Regions from separate parts of the Homo sapiens genome. Here region 2 is linked to region 1. A link means that fine-mapping ties the variant in region 1 to the expression of a gene that starts in the linked region. Tissue or cell type: whole blood. Region 1 holds a variant in brackets; the other region holds the start of a gene. All regions are shown on one strand. Distances are between the middles of the regions.

Region 1 (11,018 bases):
GATCCACAGCCAGGGAGCTCCTAAGTGACAGGGAAATCCTAACCAGAAGATCCGAAGTCTCTAGTTTCATTATCATAATTATAGAAAAGTTAATCAAAACGTCCATTATTTTGACTGTGGCGATGGTTTCGTGATATGTACACATCAAAATGTATTAAATTGTACGCTTTAAAACTATGCAGATTTACTGTATATCAATTATCTCAATAAAGCTGTTTAAAAAAAAATCTTGGCTGGGCGCAATGGTTCACACCTGTAATCCCAGCACTTTGGGAGGCCAAGGTGGGCAGATCACTTGAGGTCAGGAGTTCGAGACCAGCCCGGCCAACATGGTGAAACCCTGTCTCTGCTAAATATACAAAAATTAGCCGGGCATGGTGGCACATGCTTATAATCCCAGCTACTCAGGAGGCTAAGGCAGGAGAATTGCTTGAGCCTGGGAGGCGGAGGTTGCAGTGAGCCAAGATCGTGCCACTGCACTCCAGCCTGGGTGACAGAGCAAGACTCTGTCTCAATAAATAAATAAATAAATAAATAAGCAAGCAAGCAAGCCAGGCGTGGTAGTGTGCGCCTGTAATCCCGGCTACTTGGGAGGGTGGGGCAGGAGAATTGCTTGAACCCGGGAGGCGGAGGTTGCAGTGAGCTGAGATCACACCACTGCACTCCAGCCTGGGCAAGAGTGAGACTGTCTCAAACAAACAAACAAACAAAAAAAACTTAAAAGTAGTCTAATATTGTGTATTACAGGCAAGATTAGAAAGAAGCTCAGAGAGGCCGGGCGCGGTGGCTCAGGCCTGTAATCCCAGCACTTTGGGAGGCCGAGGCGGGTGGATCACAAGGTCAGGAGATCGAGACCATTCTGGCTAACATGGTGAAACCCCGTCTCTACTAAAAATACAAAAAATTAGCCGGGCGTGGTAGCGGGCGCCAGTAGTCCCAGCTACTAGGGAGGCTGAGGCGGGAGAATAGTGTGAACCTGGGAGGCGGAGCTTTCAGTGAGCCGAGATTGCGACACTGCACTCCAGCCTGGGCGACAGAGCGAGACTCCGACTCAAAAAAAAGAAAGAAAGAAAGAACCTCAGAGAATGTTTCATTATAACACGAGTAACTGAGGGTCAAGAGGCCATCCTTCAACTGACTGCCCAACACAGAAAATGCAGCAGCATTACCTGTATTTGATAATTCTAGAAACTAAAACTATTCTAGTTAGTTTTTACTTTATTTATTTATTTTAGAGACAGAGTCTTGCTCTGTCACCCAGACTGGAGTACAGCTACGTTATCATAGCTCACTGCAGCCTCCAACTCCTGGCCTCAGGCTTCAAGAGTGTTGGGAGTTTATGCATAAGCCACCATGCTGGCCTATTCTAGATAATTTTAAAAACTTTAAAACCTTAACTTAAAAAAACAAACTTTATCATCTTCTCATTCACTGCTCTGGATAGCTTCCAGCTGAGGGCGGCCTGAAGAAGTGAACGGCCCACGTGCCTGGGCAAGGCAGGAGCTGTGTTAGTAAGGATCTCCTGCAACACTCCCTCATCATGACGTGCCAGACACAGATGATACTTCTCCAACAGGAGAACACTCACCCTTTTGTCTTCCCATCCTCTTCAGGATAAAAATCATTTGTGATTTTCCCAAACTTGGAAAAGATCTTGTGGATGACATTTTTGAGTTTCTCAAGTCGGTCGGGTCCCACCTGAGGGACATTGTCCACTACAATCACCGAATCGATTCCATCTGCTTCCTGGGGCCGATCTTTGAGTACATCTCCCAGTAATTCTGAACAAGAGAGATTTTTCAAATGATCATTTTTACCAAGAAAAACATTAATACATTAACTGAGCACACTAAACAAGTCTTCAAGAAGAGACAATGAATTGTCTAAATGCTTTCACTGTGAGCAAAAGAAATCCTAACCCTAGCTTGTTTCAGATTTTAAACATGACAGCTGGGGGGACTGGAACTCTCCTCTCTCCCTTTGATGGAAATGTAAACAGTCAAGACAGGTCAATTAAGTTCTGGTAATAACCAAAGACTACAGGAGAATAACAGTGAAAAGCTTTTAACAATGCACAATGCAAATGAAGAAGACCATCTCAAGAATATCCACTATTAGATCTTCCAGAGATGCCTAGATTTTGAAAGGTTTGTTGCAACATCTAGGCAGGCAGAATCCCATCCCAATGTCAATGAAAACTGACTTTTTACAGAAGATTTTAGCAAACAAGTAAATATTTAAATGCTCAATATATTCACAGCACATTTGTGCTGTGAATACAAATTACCAGAAATTATTCAAGGAGGAACCCTCTCTCGAGTGAACTGGGATGAAAGTAGTAACTCTTCTCCCACCTCCTGTTCCCAGTGATTTTCATGTTTTCAGGCCGTGAACTGGATGGCCATTCACAGGGGATGGGGAAAAAACCCAAAGAGGAAGCGCGTCTGGGGTGAGCTTCCCCACCTCTCTCCGCTGCAGAGCCCACCACCACGCACCTTCGTTCAGAACAATCTTTACCCAATATTCCTTAGGTTAAAAAGCTCTAAGGATAAACAACTGAACTGCAGGAGACAGGGATGTGACAGTGTCTTTCCTACTCACGTAACACTCAACACAACGCCTGACACCGGACGTGGGTGTCGCATCAAGCAGTTCTCCAGGGGCCACCAGCTGGGTGTCCTCTAACTTAATCCAATTCAGACACTATCTACCAGGAATTAGCATCAGATCCCACAGGCTGAAGGCTCAGCCCCAAAGACTGGCCCCCATTTCAGATGGCAGTCGCAAGTAGTGGGCTGTCACCTCCGGTTCTGACCGACAGGCTACAAAGCAGGGCTCCCACTATCCCTCGCTTCTTGGGTTCCATTAATTTACTGCAGCAGCTTACAGAATTCAGAGAGCTAGGTTTGCCAGCTTATTATAACGGACGTTACAGAGGATATAGACGAAAAGGCAGATGGAGGAGAAGCGCAGAGCCTCCCTGTGCTCTCCAGGCCACCACCCTGCAGAAGCCTCCACCTGTTCCGCTGCATGGAGCCCCTGAACCTGGTCCTTTTGGGTTTCTATGAAGATCTCATTATAGAGGCGTGATTAATGACATCACTGAGCACCGGTGATCAACTCAACTTTCAGCCCTCTTCCTTCTGGGTGGCAGGGGGAGACCTAAAAGGTCCCACCCTCTAATCACGTGGTTGGTTCCCTGGCAAGGAGCCCCAGCCATCAATCAAGTCCTCGTCTACAAAAAGACACTTACCACTTTGGAAATTACAAGGGTTTAGACGCTGAGTGCCAAGAGCCAGGCAGAGCCCAAATACACATTTCTTAATTATATCACAAAGAGCCTTTTTGAAAAACACTATCAGGGCAGAGACCGGCACTTAAACTAGGAGACTGGAGAATATACAAGCTCCTGAAACAACTTTTTTTTTTCTTTGTAAAGAGACAGGGTCTTGTTATGCTGCCCAGGCTAGCCTGGAACTCCTGGGCTCTAGCAATCCTCCTGCCTCAGCCTCCCAAGTAGCAGGGACTACAGGTGGGAGCTGCCACCCCCACTGAGATTAAATAACAGTATTTTTTTCTTAGTGGTAGGTGAAGCTGTTCTTGATGTGATGAAATGCCTCGCAGGGCTGCTGGAAAGCATCACGTGTCAGAATTTAGAACACGGCCAGGCTCAGTGGCTCACGCCTGTAATCCCAGCATTTTGGGAGGCCGAGGCAGGCAGATTACCTGAGGCCAGGAGTTCAAGACCAGCCTGGCCAACATGGTGAAACCTGTCCCTAATAAAAATACGAGAAAAATGATCCAAGCATGGTGGTGGGTGCCTGTAATTCCAGCTACTGGAGAGGCTGGGGCAGGAGAATCGCTTGAACCCAGGAGATGGAGGTTGCAGTGAGCCAAGATCATGCCACTGCACTCCAGCCTGGGAGACAGAGTGAGACTCCATCTCAAATAATAATAATAATGATAATTCCAACATACTAAATATGCAGATGTCCGAAAATATTCTTTACTGTATTTATTCTCAAAAGTTGGCTGGGCATGGTGGCTCACTCCAGCGACAGAGCAAGACTCCGTCTCAAAAAAACACTTTCGGAAATATTGAAAACTGACCCAGCATGGTGGCTCACGCCTGTAATCCCAGCATTTTTGGAAGCCAAGGAAGGCAAATCACATGAGGCCAGGAGTTCGAGACCAGCCTGGCCAACAAGGCAAAACCCCATCTGTATTAAAAATACAAAAAGTAGCCAGGCATGGTGGCACATGCTTATAATCCCAGCTACTTGGGAGGCTGAGGCAGGAAAATCGCTTGAAGCGGGGAGGCAGAGGCTGCGGTGAGCCATTGCACTCCAGTCTGAGCAAGAGAATGAGACTCTGTCTCAAAAAAAAAAAGGAAATATTGAAAATACTGCCTTAAAAAATAATCGCCGTTTTATTTTCAACGATGCTAAAATTGAGACGAACAAGAGAAAAAAAAAGGGAAAAAGGCAGTTGCCAGTCACTGCAGTGCCGGACACCCTGCTATGGAAACTAGTCAAATCCTAGGGTAACTTCTAAAGCACTTACCATACAATTAAATAGCCTGACAAGCCTGATCTGAATTTATAAGGCTGCAATAAAAAGCTCAACTTTTACACAAATTGGGTACTCCTTCCCACAAGCTCAAAGCGTCTAGTCTAGGAGAAACTGCCCACACGTAGGAAGGAAATAAATGAAGTAACTACACCATGAAGACACAACGCCTTGATCACTCTCAGCCCAAGCATCGGTTACACGTGGCTCATGGATTCCCAAGCGGTCTCCAGGAAAAACAGAAGAGAACAATTCTCAACACTAAATAGCAAATAGAAAGAGAAAGAATAGTTAATGAGCCAAAAAAGACATTTAGAGTTAAAATCCTGGATCAGCTGAAACATTAAACTGAAAGGATGATTACAGTTTGAGAAGCTAATCTGTACCAAAAAAGTAATAAAGCAAGACAGGGACTCCAGGCCACCTCTGGCCTGCTCCTTGGAAGACTTGGCCCTTCTGGAAAGAACTGATACAGTCACCTACGGTCTTGCACAATGACCCTGAAGGGCAGCTCTTCTCATAAAGCACAAAACCTGCGTTACCACAACCAGGAGGGCCATGACAAAGTCGGCTTCCTGAGCCTTAGTCCTCAGGACCAGATGCCTCACCTGTCACTCTGGCCAACACTGCACCTTCAGGGCCACGTGGGCCCGCTGAGGACCCACAGCCGTCACCCAGCCTGGCCAACCCTGTCGTCATATTAGCATCCTCTGACTCTTCCCAATTCCAGAAGTAATCTACGTATTAGAAATCTGTGAATTCGATGGGCTCAAATAATGCTTTTTAAAAAAGTAGCAGAATATCCAAGGGCTCAAAATAATCATTAAACCAAAAGTTTTGATTTTTAAACCATAATAACAATTGAAGCGTTAGAAAGAACACTGTTCTGAGCAGGAGAGTCTGGTGGGCCAAGCAGTATAGACCCACTGGGAATTCTCAGCAGCCTACTCCACCTTCAGGGACAAGTTTCCTCAGGACTGAGGGGCGTAGACTAGATGTTCCCAAAGTCTTTAGTTTGTGGTGTCCTTCCTGCTTTTCATGCTAAAATGTCTTTTATGAAAAAAAAAAGTGTAATATAGTAATGGTCACAGTAACTGACAGCGTTTTTATTTTTTAATTTTTCACTTTTTGAGACAGGGTCTCACTCTGTCGCCCAGGCAGTGGTGGGATCTAGGCTCACTGCAACCTCCACCTCCTGGGTTAAAGTGATTCTCGTGCCTCAGCCTCCCAAGTACCTGAGACTACAGGTGTGCACCAGCACACCTGGCTGACTTGTATTTCTGATAACCTTTTTTTCTTTTTCTTTTTTTTTTTTTTTTGAGACGGAGTCTTGCTCTGTCGCCCAGGATGGAGTGCAGTGGCAGGATCTCGGCTCACTGCAAGCTCCGCCTCCCAGGTTCACACCATTCTCCTGCCTCAGCCTCCAGAGTAGCTGGGAAATCCAGGTGCCCGCCACCACGCCCGGCTAATTTTTTTTTATTTTTAGTAGAGACGGGGTTTCACCGTGTTAGCCAGGATGGTGACCTCGTGATCCACCCGTCTCGGCCTCCCAAAGTGCTGGGATTACAGGCGTGAGCCACCCAGCCCGGCCCTCTGATAGCCTTTTAAAAATACGTTTAAATCATAAATTGGCAACTCCATGTTATTCCCGAAATTGTCCTGGTGTATCGCTGGCTACATCAGCAAGGGTATTTTTATTTTTCTCACTCTAGTATCAACTTAGCCAATCTGCAGAGGCTGATGTGTTCCCAACTTAAAGGCTTAAGAGAGCTAAAAAACAAAAGAAAAACAAATGAGACCAGCTCTCATCAGAAGTAGCTTCAGGAAAAAATCTCTGAGACAGGAAGCAAAAATATGCCTGTAAATCCAATCAAGGTTGAGATGAAGGCAAAGCTGGCTGTTATCGGCAATATTAAAACCTGGAAAAATAACTCTCTTTATAGATTTAGCGCAAGAGATAAAGAAAAATCAAACTGGAATTTCACAGGGTGCCTGTCCCACTAAGGAAGTCTCTGGAGATGGACAATTCTGAGGGGCAGGAGGACAAAATCACCGGCTCTGCCACAAGCTGTTCCTCCGATCCAGACCTTGGGAGGTCTGACTGGTCAGCTCTGGGGACACGTAGACCCGCAAACCTGCCACCGGGTCTTCGGTTTTTGCCGTACCCCCAGCTGCTACACTCACAGCACACCCAGCCATAACGGAGTACCCCATGTGCCCTCTCCCACCCTCTCAGATTTCTGGTTGTCATGCAAATGCCTGGCTCCCGAAGTGAGCTCCACCCTGTCCCCTTTTTCAGGAAAGAAAAGGGGAGGCGCTGGGCTCTCAGAACACTTCCAGGGCACTCGGGAACCCCTCCCTCGGTGGCTTCTCAGGAACACACGGACACCCTCGCTGGAACTTCTGCACGAACCGGTGGCACAGCCCGACGATATCTCCCACCTCGGGAACCCCAGCCACGCTCCCGCGCCGCTCGCCAGCCCCGCCCCGGGCGCCCTCACCTTCCTCGCTCACGTCGTCCACGAAGTCCTCGGGGTCGCTGAAGGAGGGCTCGTCCGCGTCGCCGTTCTCCAGCGCCCGGGGTTCGGCCTCGGCCGCTCTGCCCTCGTTTCCTCCCGCGTCCTCGGACACCGCCTGGGCCCGGCTGTCGGAGCGCTCGTCCCGAGCCTGCTCTCCTGGGGCCTCGCCCTGTGCCGGGACAGGGGGCTCAGCATGCGACCCGGGCAGCTCCTCGGCGGCCGGCGGCGAGGGCGACTCGGACGGGCCGGAGGCCGCCTCTGCCTCGGCCGCCGGCTCGGTCCTCACCTCGGACTCCGGCCCGGCCTCCGCGATCCCCACCTCCTCACTGGAGGCCTCGGTCCCCGCGGCCTCCGGAGCGCCGGGCCCCGCGGGCCGCAGCAGCCCCTCGGCTGGCGGCGGCTCGGCGGCCGGCTGCTGCTGGCCGGGCTCGGCGCGCTCCTCGGCCGCCTCGGGCACCGCCACGTTCTCCGCGTCCTGCATGGGCCCAACGCTGCCTACTCGCAGGGCTCCGCGGCCGCCGCGCTTCCGACTCTCCCAGGCCGCACCGCGCGCCGCGACGGCTACAGCCCAGCCATGTGCGTGCGACGGGGAGGCCGCACCAAGGCCGCGGGGCGGGGGGCGCACCCACGCCCTGGGGCCTCACGAACGACCCTGAGAGGACTCGCATCCACAAGACCGCGCCCGAAAATCATCAAACTGATATATTTGTGACAAGAAAGTGCTTAATTCCATTCAGCAAGGTTGTTTCTGTGCATCAGTAAACTCATGGGAGCATTGACCACCCCATGTGTGGCAGCAGATGGTTCCGTCCAACATGGCGTCCTCC[C/T]CCTTTCCTTTCCCGTCGGACGCTGCGGGGCGGGACTGAACTATTTGTGGAGCTGAAGGCGGGGACAAGAAATGATTTTAGTACCCGGAATGCTAGGAAAATGTCCTCTAACTCAACAGTTAATACCCTGGAAGAGTGGAGACTCAACAGGCGATTGCTCAGGGCGTCTGAGCCTTTCGCTAGGGAAACCGTTTAGTTTACGTTACTAAAGTCCCCCCTGTCCGTGTCTGTCACTTGGACTCGCCTACTGACTGAGCAAAAGGACAGACTACTTCAAAATAGAAAAGGAATTCGGGGCGAGCCAGAGAGGGCCCACACGACTAGAAGGACGACTGCCTGGCGCGATACAAAAATGTATGGAAGTTTCTTTAATCGCTTACCCCCAGTCCTTCCCTAGCGGCCGTCACTGCCTGTTTCCCCCCATTCGGGCTTTCACAGTGGTTCAGTCCATCCGAGGCCGCCGCCTTCAGCGCGGGACAGCGCGGGTCACGTGGGGGCGGGGGCGGGTCCTCGCCGCGTGGAGCTCGAGGCTGACTCCGGAGGGACCGGAGCGGTTCGCTCTGCGCGGGTGCTCACGGGACGGGCATTGGGTGCATGTGGCTTCTATCTTGTTTTTTGCCGGAGTGGAGGACAACCACTGGTTGGGGGATGTCTTAATCATCCTAGAAAACAACCCAGTGGATCACGCCTGTTATCCCAGCACTTTGGGAGGCTGAGGTGGGAAGATCGCTTGAGCTTAGGAGTTGGAGACCAGCCTTGCCAACATAGCACCACCACCCCCCGCACGCCAGCCCTCATCTCTACGAAAATTAAATAAATAAATAAAACAGGTGGTACCCAGAGGCTGGGGTGGAGAGTGGGGAGTGTTTATCGGGGACGGACCTTCAATTTGGGAGGATGAGAACGTTTTGGAGATGACGGTGGTGATGGTACAACATGGTGAATGTACTTGATGCCACTGAACTGTATACTAAACTTCATATTAAAATGGCTAGGCCCTGCGCGGTGGCTCACACCTCTCTTCCCAGTACTTTGGGAGGCCAAGACAGGAGGATCACTTGAGCCCAAGAGTTCAAGACCAGTCAGGGCAACATAGCGAGACCCTGTCTTCGAAAAAATAAAATAAAATGCCAAAAAGGTAAATTTTATGTATATTTCATCCTATAGTTTTTTTGTTTTGTTTGTTTTCAGAGATAGGGTCTCGCTCTGTTGCCCAGGCTAGAGTGCGGTGGCATAATCACAGCGCCGCTGCAATCGGGACCTTCCAGCCTCAAGAGAATCCTCCCACCTCAGCCTCCCAAAGTGCCAGGATTACAAGCGTGAACCACCGCGCAGGGCCTAGCCATTTTAATATGCAATTTAGTGTACAGTTCAGTGACATTAAGTACATTGCCAAGTACTTGGGACTGAAGGTATGTGCCACCGTGCCCAGCTAATTTCTTTATTTGTAGATAGCATCTCACTGTGTTGCCCAGGCTGGTCTCAAACTCCTGGCCTCAAGCAGTCTTCCTCCCTCAGCTTCCCAAAGTGCCGGGACTATAGGCATGAGCCACCACACCCATCCCATCCTAACGGTGTTTAAAAGAGCGAAAAAGAAGCAGAGTCTTCCCATGCCTAGTACCAGGTTTGACTACTCCTCATCATGCTGTCAGTGGTGTATCTTTGGGCAGGTCACTTAATGCCTCCACCTCAGTTTCCGCATCTGTACAATAAGGGATGACAATTTTTTTTTTTTTTATTTAGACGGAGTGTTGCTCTGTCGCCTAGGCTGGAGTGCAGTGGCACGATCTCGGCTCACTGCAAGCTCCACCTCCCGGGTTCACGCCATTCTCTTGCCTCAGCCTCCCAAGTAGCTGGGAATACAGGTGCCCGCCACCACGCCTGGCTGATTTTTTTTGTATTTTTTTAGTAGAGACGAGGTTTCACCGTATTAGCCAGGATGGTCTCGATCTCCTGACCTTGTGATCCGCCTGCCTCGGCCTCCCAAAGTGCTGGGATTACAGGTGTGAGCCAATACGCCTGGGAGTATGTTTTTTCTACATATGCATGCTTACAATAGGGCACAGTAAGAGATTAACAGCAATAACTAATAGAACAATTATAACAATATATTGTCATAAAAGTTATGTGGATGTGGTGTCTGGTGGTGTGTCTGTGTCTCTCTCTGTCAAATTTTCTTCATTATGTAATATTTTCCAACCTAATTGACCATAAGTAACTGAAACAGTGCAATGTGAAACTGGGGGTCGGGGGGGCTACTGTGTTTGGAAGCAGTCTTCCCAGATGTAATCAAGATGAAGTCAAAGTGGACGAGAGTGGACCCTAAATCAGTGATTGATGTCCTTATTAGAAGAAGGAAATTATGGCCGGGCATGGTGGCTCACACCTGTAATCCCAGCACTTTGGGAGGCCAAGGTGGGCGGATGCATTACATGAGGTCAGGAGTTCGAGACCAGCCTGAACAACATGGTGAAACCCCATCTCTACTAAAAATACAAAAATTAGCCAGGCATGGTGGCACATGCCTGTAATCTCAGCTACTCAGGAGGCTGAGGCGGGAGAATCACTTGTACCCTGGAGGCAGAGGGCGTAGTGAGCGGAGATTGCACCATTTCACTCCAGCCTGGGCAACGAGCAAAAATCCATCTCAAAAAAAAAAAAAAAAAAAAACCAACAACAACAACAAAAACTTACTCGATTTTTTGTTTTTATTATTATCTTTATTTATTTATTTATTTATTTTTTGAGATGGAGTCTCACTCTGTCGCCCAGGCTGGAGTGCAGTGGTGCTATCTCGGATCACTGCAAGCTCCACCTCCCGGGTTCAAGCAATTCTCCTGCCTCAGCCTCCCGAGTAGCTGGGACTACAGGCGCCTGCCACCACACCCGGCTAATTTTTTGTATTTTTAGTAGAGACGGGTTTCATCCTGTTAGTCAGGATGGTCTCACTCTCCTGACCTCGTGATCCGCCCGCCTTGGCCTCCCGAAGTGCTGGGATTACAGGCGTGAGCCACTGCGCCTGGCCTATTATTATTTTTTAACAGGGTCTCACTCTGTCACCCAGGCTGGAGTACAGTGGTGCCGTCGCACCTCACTGTAGCTT
Region 2 (9,508 bases), 160 kb before region 1:
TTAACCGGGCCAGGCTGGGCATGAGGTCCCGCGCGTAGGGTGCAGCCACCAGCACTGCAGCCACCCCACAGCTGCCCTTTGGGCCAGCACCCCTGTCCTGGGTGACCTGCAGGACAAGCTACCCACTCTGAGCCAAAGCAGCCCTGAAGTTCTGCAAAGTTGCCAACGGTCAGCAGGGTTGTGGCAGGAAACCTCAGGTGTCCCCAGCCCCCAGGTCAGGGGCCCCCAGTACCCATGCAGCCCAGCACCCCTCCCACTGCTCAGGCAAGGAAACCCAGGCTTGCCCAAGGCCACAGCCCACCTGTGCCAGCACGCGGCCGCCCCCTGCCAGGAGCGCTCTGCGGAAGAGGAGGGGGCCGCCAGGGCGGGGCCAGGAGTCGCCGGCGCCCGCCTGGGCCTGCCGGCACACGGGGAGGAATGTTCCTTCCTCTGCCCGGCCCGCCCAGCGCGTGCCGCCCGGCGCACCCTGGCATGGCTGAGTGCAAAACCCAGGGTGTACGGGCAATGCTCTGACCAAGGGACAACCCCCTGATGCCCACCCAGCCTCAGTTTCCTTCCCTGTACACACAGGTCCCGCAGAGGCCCTGGAACACCTTGGTAGTCTCAGATCCTTATCCAGCCTGACCCAGCCCTGGGCACATGCTCACTAGGGTGAGGCCCAGAGCTAAGGGGGTGGCAGGCTGGGTCTCCGCCTCTCCATGCATGCACCCCTCCTGCAGCACCCATAGACACCCCAGGGCAGCCACACGCACAGACTCGCACCCAGCCCCTTGGCCTCCCCAGAATCTCAGCCCAGGAATGCCGTGGGAGGCGGAGGGCCAGCCCCTGCAGACGCTCCACTGCGCCGCTGGGTTAAAAGGAAAATGCTTTCTTAATGAGATCAAGGGAGGCCTGTTCTCCCGAGATTTGGTGGTGCCCTAAAAACCCAGCCCAAGGCTACGGAGATTAAAGTCACCTTTGTTCAGCTCAGGGAGCAGGGAGGCCTCTAGAACAGCATCTGAGAAGGCGGGGCTATGGGGTGCGGGGGTGCCGGTCGAACTGTCTCCCGACACCTGAGCCACCAGGAGGGGAGGAAAAAGGCGCTGCTGGGCTATAGGCCTCACCTGCCGCTCAGAGCCTCAGTCTCGTCTTCAGTAAAATGGGCATAACAGAGCTCCCCTGGGCAGAGAACAAAGTGCAAAGACAGATTCTCTCCCTTCCTCTCCCTGACAGCCCTCGGAGGTGGGTGCCATTACCAGCTGAGGCCCAAGTGGGGAAACTGAGGCCCAGAGAGGTGCAGGCACCAGCCTGAGGTCATACCCTGGGGCCGAGGCGGTGCTAGACCAGCCCAGTCCCTGCCTTCTAGGGACCCAGACCCCCCAGTGCCACCTAACTTTCCAGACGAAGACGGGGCTGCAGGAGGAAGAGCCGGGTGGATGAGGGTGGACGGGGGCGGGGGCCGGGGGACACCCACAGGAAGCAGCATTGTTCCTGGAGCCGCGATTCAAAGAAACACAGGATGCCAAGTTCTCCCCAGCAATTGTGGCCGCTGTGGTGGCAGCGCGGCAGCCTGGCTGCTCCTGGGAGGGGCGGGGAACCTCTGGGCCAAAGGCCAGGCTCTTCATCCTGGACTCCAGGCCCATCTCAGCGCGGCCCCTGCTGACCAACCGACCCTCCCCCCAGCCACCACTCCAGTTGCTAGAAGTTTCCTGCACAACCCCCATGCTGTGGTCATCACCATGCCCGGATGGAGTGCCCTTTCTGGGCACTTTTTTACTCTTAGTCTAGCTCAAATGGCGCCTCCTCCAGGAAGTCTTCCCTCCTCCCTCCCTTCCCCCAGCATGTGGGTCAGATGCCCACTGTTGCCTCACACAGCCTCTCGGGGTTTTCCCCCCGCACAGCCCTGACATCTTTCTATCTCCCCCATCAGACCATGTCTGAGTCATTCCGTGCAGGGCTGGGAGAGGGGGGCCCTCTTCTGTGGGTTTCCAGGACCCCTGCCCATCACCCACCACAAGGGGGTCTTTGCTTGCTGTGTGCTGGTGAACTGATGCTGAGGGCAGATTCAACCTGTCCCCTGGTGGGGTGACCCTCCAGTAGGGACCTCAGGGCTCAAGGGAGTGATGGCCCCCACCTCGACCCTGAGTGCCCGCCGGGTTCACCCCATGCCTGCAGGCTTTGCCAGTCTCTTACAACGTGCTCCTGGAAGGACCATGTTCCCCCATTTCAGAGATCAGAGTGAGGGTCTGAGAGGCCCCAGGTCTTGCTCAGGATCACACAGCCCAGCCCTCTGACCACATCCCCTCTGTTGGAGAAAGGCCCCAAATTCCAAGATGAGAGGTGCTCAGAGCTGGTGGTAGCCCAGAGTGGGGCTGAAGGATGCCCAAGATCACATAGCAGTAAGGCTTGAGTGCTGGGGGTGGGGGGGCCAGGCTCAGGGATGGTGCCCCAAAAGGACTGTCAGTAAGAGATGCTGGGGGGGCCCGCTGGTCCCCTCATCGCCAGGCAACCTGAGTGGCCAGCACGCCAGCAGCGGTTCCCACGGAGCGCGTAGCTGCACACAAGGGGCCCGACGCCTTTCTCGCTGGAGAAAGGGGCTTTGTTACCTTGCCCAAGGGGCCGGCGTGAGAGCCGCCCGGCGCTGGGAATCCTAACGGCCCGGCCGCCAAACAAAACCCACGGCCCCCGCCGCCCCCTCCCGCCAGCCCGCTGAGCCCCTGGGAATGGGACGCTGTGTTCCCAGGAGGCTGCCATGGGGTTCCCAGGGCCCCTTCCCCACGCCAGGACCAGGGAGGACCCTGCCCCTCCCCGTCGCCCTCATGACCTCACCAAGCCCTGCTCCCACCCACCCACAGTGCCCCAAAACAGGACAGCGCCAGGTCAGAAGGCCCTGGGTCTCCGGGGTTTGAGCAGGGAGGAAGGCGTGCAGGGTCTTCCCTGAGCCCCCACCCTCACAGCAAATGCCTCTGCATCTCCCAGCCCAGAGACACCCCCCCAGTCCCCGACTGCAAGCCCCACACACTGTCCCCATCCCGCCCCAGCCCAACCGTCCTGCTGTGGCCTCGAGGGAAATGTTCAAAGTGGGGTGTGTCTTAATTATGTGTGTGTAAGAAGCTGATGCCCAACTGAAGTGGGCTGTGCCCAAGGTTGCAGGCCTCAGAGACTACTGCACTGTGCGGGGAGGGTCCCCACACAGACCCCAAAACCTGGAGTTCTTTGAGATGTACTCCCCAGGACCCACCAACCAGCAATGACTTCCCTCCCTCCCCGTACCTTAACACTGTGATGAGGAAAGGGCCCAGAGGTCAGAACCCCTCACTTCTCTAAAGGAAGAGCCTTTCTCCCCAGGAAGGGGTCTGAGCTGAGGGTGGGTCCGAACAGAATTTGCTTGTGGAAGTTTGAGGACATAATGCCCTATGAATGCGCTCCAATGTTTACGGGGTGAGAAGTATCACAGGGCACCAACCCCAAGCACTGGAGACTGGTGTAGGGTCCTGCAGCCATCCAGGACTCTGGAGCTGGACAGGAGGCGGGGCCCCGGGGACAGTAACACAACTGTAACGGGAGAGTGGCCCCAGCAGGCAAACTGGGTGCACCGGGGTGCACTGGCGTCGCCCACAGATGGCCCTAGTGGCTGGATGGGGATGCAGCCTGACTCCCATGGGACACTGCCACCAGCTGGACCAGATGGTGGGTCCCCGCCCCGCTCGCCCGCCAGTCCAGGCCGCGGGGGGCTCACCATCTCCTTGTGGCGCGAGATCCAGGTCTCCAGCAGCAGGTCGAGGCGCGCGCGGTGGAACTTTTTGGTGGTCTTGACAGCGATGAAGACGTCTCGGGGCGCGAGCGGCTCGGCCAGGGGGCGCGGGTGGCCGTCGGCGGGGCGGGGGGCAGCCCCGGGCGGCGGGCCCGCATCTCTGCGCGCGCGGGTGAGCAGGCTGAAGTACTCGGACAGACTGTGCACGTCGCGGACCAGCGCCCCGGGCGCCGCCGCCGCCGCCCCCAGCCCGGGCGCCGGGGCAGCCCCCGCGGGGCCCGCCAGGCTGCGCAGCGCGCGCCGGCCGCGCTCGGCGGGCAGTGGAGGCGGCGGCGGGTCGGCGGTGAGCACCAGCAGGCAGGCGAGCAGCGCGCCCGCCAGCGCCAGCAGCAGGCGCCGGCCGCAGCGCTTGAGCATGGTGGGGTGGCGGCCGCGCGGCGCGCCCTTCCCCGTGCGCCTGCCTTGCACCGACCCGAAGCCCGTCGCTCCGGCGGCGCAGTCCAGCAGCGCAGCACCAGTGTCCCGCGCTCTTAAACCTCCCCGCCCCGGTCCCGCCCCCGTGCGCTCATTGGCTCCCGGGCTCGGGGGCGGGGCCTCGCGCCGGTCGCCGCTCCACGCCCGCAGACCCACGTGGGGCCGCGGCTGGGGGCTGGGAACTGCCCAGAGGGCGCAGCGGCCCCGCCCCCGGCGCGCACGTGCACGCCCCGCACCCCCCCCGCCCCGGGTAGCCCCTGCGGGCCGCCGAGGGGCTTGGGGACGGGCCCGGCCCGCGCCGGTGTCCCTGAAGAGGAAACCCAGCCTGGCCAGCGCCGTCCGGGGATGCACCGGGCGTCCCGGCACGGGAGGGGCGCGCCCTCGGCGCAGCGGGCAGGGTGCTGAGACCCGGGCTCTGGGCTCCGACGCACCGCGGGGGACATCCTACTTCCTCGCTGTGCGCTTCCCCTCCTGAGCACGGCTTCCTCCCCTTGGGACGCGGCAGGCCTTGCAAACTGGGGTGGCGCCTGGGTCTTCCCGAGCGCTCGGTTCAGGGGAGCCGTTATTTGTACAGAGCAAGAGCTTGGCCACCTGTGCCGCAGGTGGGGACACGAGGTTCTAACGAGAAAGCACCAGAACCAAATTCCACTCCTTCCTCCCTGGCTGATTTCCTCGATCCTGGCCCTCCGTCGGGAGGGTTGGCTCCCCGAAATCCTCAGGCGCCCCATGGCGAGGAGAAACGAAGGCCGCCACTTCCCTCGCCGGATGAAAGGCCGCCTTCTGTCCCATTTGGTCTCCTTGCGCTCGGGCCAGATGCGGCCCAGCTGTGCGCCCTCCCCACCCCGCCTCCCCGGCACACGGCCCCCATCCCCGGCCCTTCCCACGGGCCCGGGCCCGCCCCTCGCACGAGCGGGGGCGGCAGGAATGCGCGCCGGCAGCCGAGGGTGAGGGGCGAGGGGCCCGGAAGTGGCCAAGGGTCGCCTGAGCAGGGTGTGAGCCCCCTGCCCGCCACGTCCTCCGGAAGCGTGGACGGAGGCGGCTCTGCCCGTGGCTGCGCTGTCTTCCCGTGCCCTCCTAAGCAGGGTCTCTGCGACCACCACGACCACCACCGCCACCACCGTGGCTAAACTGCCCCCCTCGGAGTTATGTTCACGCCTGAGATGGCATTTTAAATTCTTTAAGTGCCCTTGGAGCCCCTCTCCTTACCTCTACCTGAATGTCAGCCGCAAGACAGCAGCGACCTGGTGTCATTCAGACCTGGAACAGGTTTTGGGACATAGTAGGTGCTCTGAAAAAATTCACTGGATAAATGTCTGGCCCCACTGTCAGACCCTCTCCCCCCGCTAAGGACGCTGTAGCCCATTTGCTCTTAGGGCCCCAGGGGCCCCACCCCTAGCCCCTGTACCCGCTGGGTGGTGTGGGGGATGGGGGTTCCCAGGCCTCTTCCTGGCCCCAGGTAATTAGCAGTCACCACCTCCGAAAGCAGATGCCCCAGCAGATGGTGCTGGCTGTGCCCAAGTGACAAGTCTCCCATGGCGTCACCTCCTGCCATAAACCCCTTCCGATCAGCCAGAGCCTAGCCCTGGAGCCTCCATGCAGCTGGAGAGGCTTGAGGGTGAGCCGGGGAGAAAAGGACCCAGTGACTGGGTTGGCTGCCCCCACAAAGTCAGCTGAGTCCCAGCCCAGCCCCAGCCTCCGGACTGAGGGGTGTCCATGACCCCACGTGCTTCAGTCACACCGCTGACTTCAGGCTCTCCCATATCTGAATTGTTTCAGAGACGGAGCCTCATCCATCCCCATCATCTCTTCCCTGAATCACTTGGGCAGCCTCCACCCCCATCCCACCCACTCCTATCCTACCTGCTTTACTTATTCTCCACGCAGCAGCTGGACAACTAGGATCATAGCCACTCACACACCCACACAAAGAGCAAAACCCTCCATAGCTCTCCACTGGCTGAGTTAAAGTCCCGCCTGATATTCACGCACCTCGTGACTTAGTCCCAGCCCCGTTTCTTGAGGCCCAATCCCTCCTCAATCCCCTGCAGCCAAGCATGGCCAAGCCCCCAAATATGTGCACGGGTTGTGCTCTGTACCTGGACTTTACATCAGTGGCACCGATGGTGGGTGCCATGCCACCCTGCACCCCACCTGACAAGATGCTGTGAGTCCATCTCCCCACAGTTCCCAGGCCAGGGGATGGGGCTTCCTGCCCTGAGCCGCCCCACCCCCGCAACTCCTGCTCCCCAGCTACCCCTGACTGCGGTGCCTTTGACCCAGCAGGTCGTGGGAGCAATGTGCCCATTGTAGAGAAAGCAAGGGGGATATTGTACCAAGGGAGTGACCATACAGAGGTGGATGGCCCAGCCTGGCAGGGGCACATGCATAGAACTGGGTAGGGGGGGTTCCCGCGTCTCTCTGTAGCCAGGAATGGGAGGAGTGGGGGACCTGATGCTGCTGCCTGTCTGGAAGCAGCGGGAGGAAGCTTTACAGCATTCTTGTGGGGGCCGCAGGCTTTGGCAAGAGTGAATCAATTTCTTTGCTGTCAGGAGAATGGAATTTCGTGGTGACTTCTTGAGGTCTGAAAACTGTTGAGGGGGTGGCCCGCCTAGCCACCCCCGCCCGCTTCCCCAGGCTCAGCTTCAGCCTGAAACACTTCCCTCCCCATCCAGACCCCAGGTCTCCCTCTAGGGGCCCACTGGGCCACACAGCCCTGGTAGGGAAGTGGGCTGTGGGATGGTGCTCAGCCCTGGACAGGACAAAGGGGAGCTGGGGAGGGGGCTAGAGAGGGCTGACCGAGTTGCCAGTGAAGCCTCTTGGGGCCGTAGGGTCCTGGGGAAGAGGGGCTGGGGATAGAGGCTGCCCCAGGGCCCAGCCTGCCTTCCGAACCCAGAGGGGCCACTTCTCGGCTTTAAGACCTTGAACCGGTGGTGTTACTCCCTGAGCCTCAGTTTCCTCACTTGTAACACAAGGATGACATACCATCCAGACCAGGCAGGCCAGCTCTGGCCCTGGCGCATGGCTTCATGGGCTTCTTGGACCCTAGTCTTCCCCTCTGCAGGGCCCCTCCACCAGTCCCAGTTTGGGGCTCCCAGGCAGCTGGGTGTGCGAATGGCCCGAGAGACCTGCCTGCTGAGGTCAGGTGGAAAGCAGGCCCACGGAGCCAGGACCCACATGACCAGGGGCCCTACCCTCCTCCTCTAGCCGCCATCAGGCTGAGACAGTGTTCTGTCCCCATCTGAGTCCAGGCCTCCTCTAACTGCCAGGGCTCAGCCCGGGGGTTCTCCTGCTGGAGTCAGTGCCACCAGGTCCCCAAAGCCATGGGCTGGGTCTGCCCTTGACACTCAGGCCTAGAGGGGAAGGGCTCGGGGCTGGCTTTGAGGTGGCCATCTGCCTTCCCTCCCCCGGGCTGTTCCTTGGGGCTGCTCTGGCCTGCCTTCCTGCAGGGTCCTGGGAAGATCTGTGGAGACATAATGGGTGACCCATTAACTCGGCAGGAAGCCATCCGAGGCGCCTGTCCACTCATCGGCTGATGGAGAGCGGCCCCACTCAGTGTCTTGGGAACCAGCTTCCTCTGGGCCAGTAGCAGTGCCCAGAGATGGAAACTCCTGGACAGGACTCAGCATGGTGGTGGCTGTGGCTCGGGCAAGCCTGCACCTCCCTGTCCTCTCCTGACACAGACGCAGGAATGCCAACCCCCAGGCTGGGGCCAGGCATCAGAACTGGCAGTGTTTGAAGCCCCCAGATGCCAGGGGGCCCATGGATTTCCAAAAGGCAGGCGTGGCCTAGTGAGTGTCCCGACCCAGGAGCTTCTGTGAGCAGCCCTTGGTGGCAGGAAGGAGGGTGATGGGAAGGTTGGCTGGGCTCAGCACAGCCGGCTCCCAAGGCCGGGGGAGGGATACCGCAGGGTGGCACAGCTGATTCCCATTACTGCAGCTGGAGTGGGCACTGCCCTGAGACTAGCAGACTCCAGCTGTGAGTAGCACCCCCACCATTCCCAACCCTGCCTGCCTGCTATGCCCAGACCCCTCGCCCACTGTGTGGTCTTGGGCCAGTGCCCTTCTGTGGGTCTTGGGACGTTACTTGACTCTGTAATAGGGATATGGCTGGTGCCTCACCCGCCCTGCCCACCAGGCTGCCTTGGGGTTGGTGCTCTGCAGCCGTGAAGCCACGGCCTTTCCAACAGTGGCCTGGCCCTTTTGCCTGCACTCTGGGGTCAGGCATGGACAGAGAGGCCAGGCCCATTAGAGTTCAGCCGACTTGGCCTCAGTGGCTGAGCAAGGCTTCGGGGGGCATCCTGGCCTGAGGCACCCTGCAGGGCCCACCAAGGGCTACCCCTCCTAGAACGTCCTCCCCATCCCCCTCTGCTACCCCCATCCTGGTGCTGATCACATGAGGTTGTAGCTGCTCCTTTACGTCTGTGTCCCTGGGGGAAGAGGCTGCCTCTTGCTGCTTGTCAGGGCCTGGCACAAAGTAGGTGCTCAGTAAACACTGGTTGAACTGATGGTGGGGGGAATGGACATACAGATGGATGGACAGATGGACAGATAGATTGGCAGATGGATGGATGGTTGGATGGATGAATGAATGGATAGACAGATGGACAGATGGAGGGACGGATGGATGGATGGATGAATAGATGGATGGATGGAAAGGTGGATGGATGAACAGTTAGATGGAGGGGCAGATGGATGGGCAGACAGACAGACGGATGGATGGATGGATGGACGGATGGACAGATGGATGGATGGATGGACAGATGGATGGATGGATGGATGGATGGATAGACAGATGAATGGACAGATGGATGGACGGACGGATGGATGGATGGACAGATGGATAGATGGATGAATGGATAGATACATGGATGGATGGAAGGATAGGTGAATGGACAGACAGACGAATGGATGGATGGATGCATGGATGAATGGATGGATGGATAGACAGATGAATGGATGGATGGATGGATGGATGGATGGATGGATGGACAGACAGACCGACAGATGAATGGATGGATGGATGCATGGATGAATGGACAGATGGATGCATGGATGGATGAATGGATGGATGGATGGACAGGTGAATGGACAGATGGATAGATGGATGTATGGATGGCTGGAAGGATAGGTGAAAGGACAGACAGACTAACGGATGGATGGATGCATGGATGAATGGATGGATGGATAGACAGATGAATGGATGGACAGATGGATGGATGAATGGATGGATGGATAGATGGATGGATGGATGGACAGATGGATGGGTGGATGGATGGATGGATGGATGGACAGGTGAATGGAC

Evidence for each region. PIP is the estimated chance that this variant, and not a neighbour inherited with it, causes the effect.
Region 2: LFNG starts here. The variant in region 1 is fine-mapped to the expression of LFNG in whole blood (INTERVAL, PIP 0.92).

Annotation. Positions count from the first base shown.
Region 1 is chr7:2,351,473-2,362,490 of GRCh38, reverse strand. EIF3B (eukaryotic translation initiation factor 3 subunit B) reads right to left here and starts at 7,664. Exons shown (of 19, transcript NM_001037283.2): 1 at 7,071-7,664; 2 at 1,589-1,781. The coding sequence starts at 7,569. It also overlaps a transcript of SNX8 not described here. RefSeq lists silencers at 7,208-7,317, 7,368-7,457, 7,638-7,777 and enhancers at 8,578-8,647, 8,318-8,873. The variant C/T (reference allele first, on the strand shown) is at 7,916.
Region 2 is chr7:2,514,504-2,524,011 of GRCh38, reverse strand. LFNG (LFNG O-fucosylpeptide 3-beta-N-acetylglucosaminyltransferase) reads right to left here and starts at 4,238. Exons shown (of 8, transcript NM_001040167.2): 1 at 3,719-4,238. The coding sequence starts at 4,150. RefSeq lists enhancers at 523-1,035, 1,902-1,961, 2,002-2,131 and silencers at 4,063-4,172, 4,183-4,712.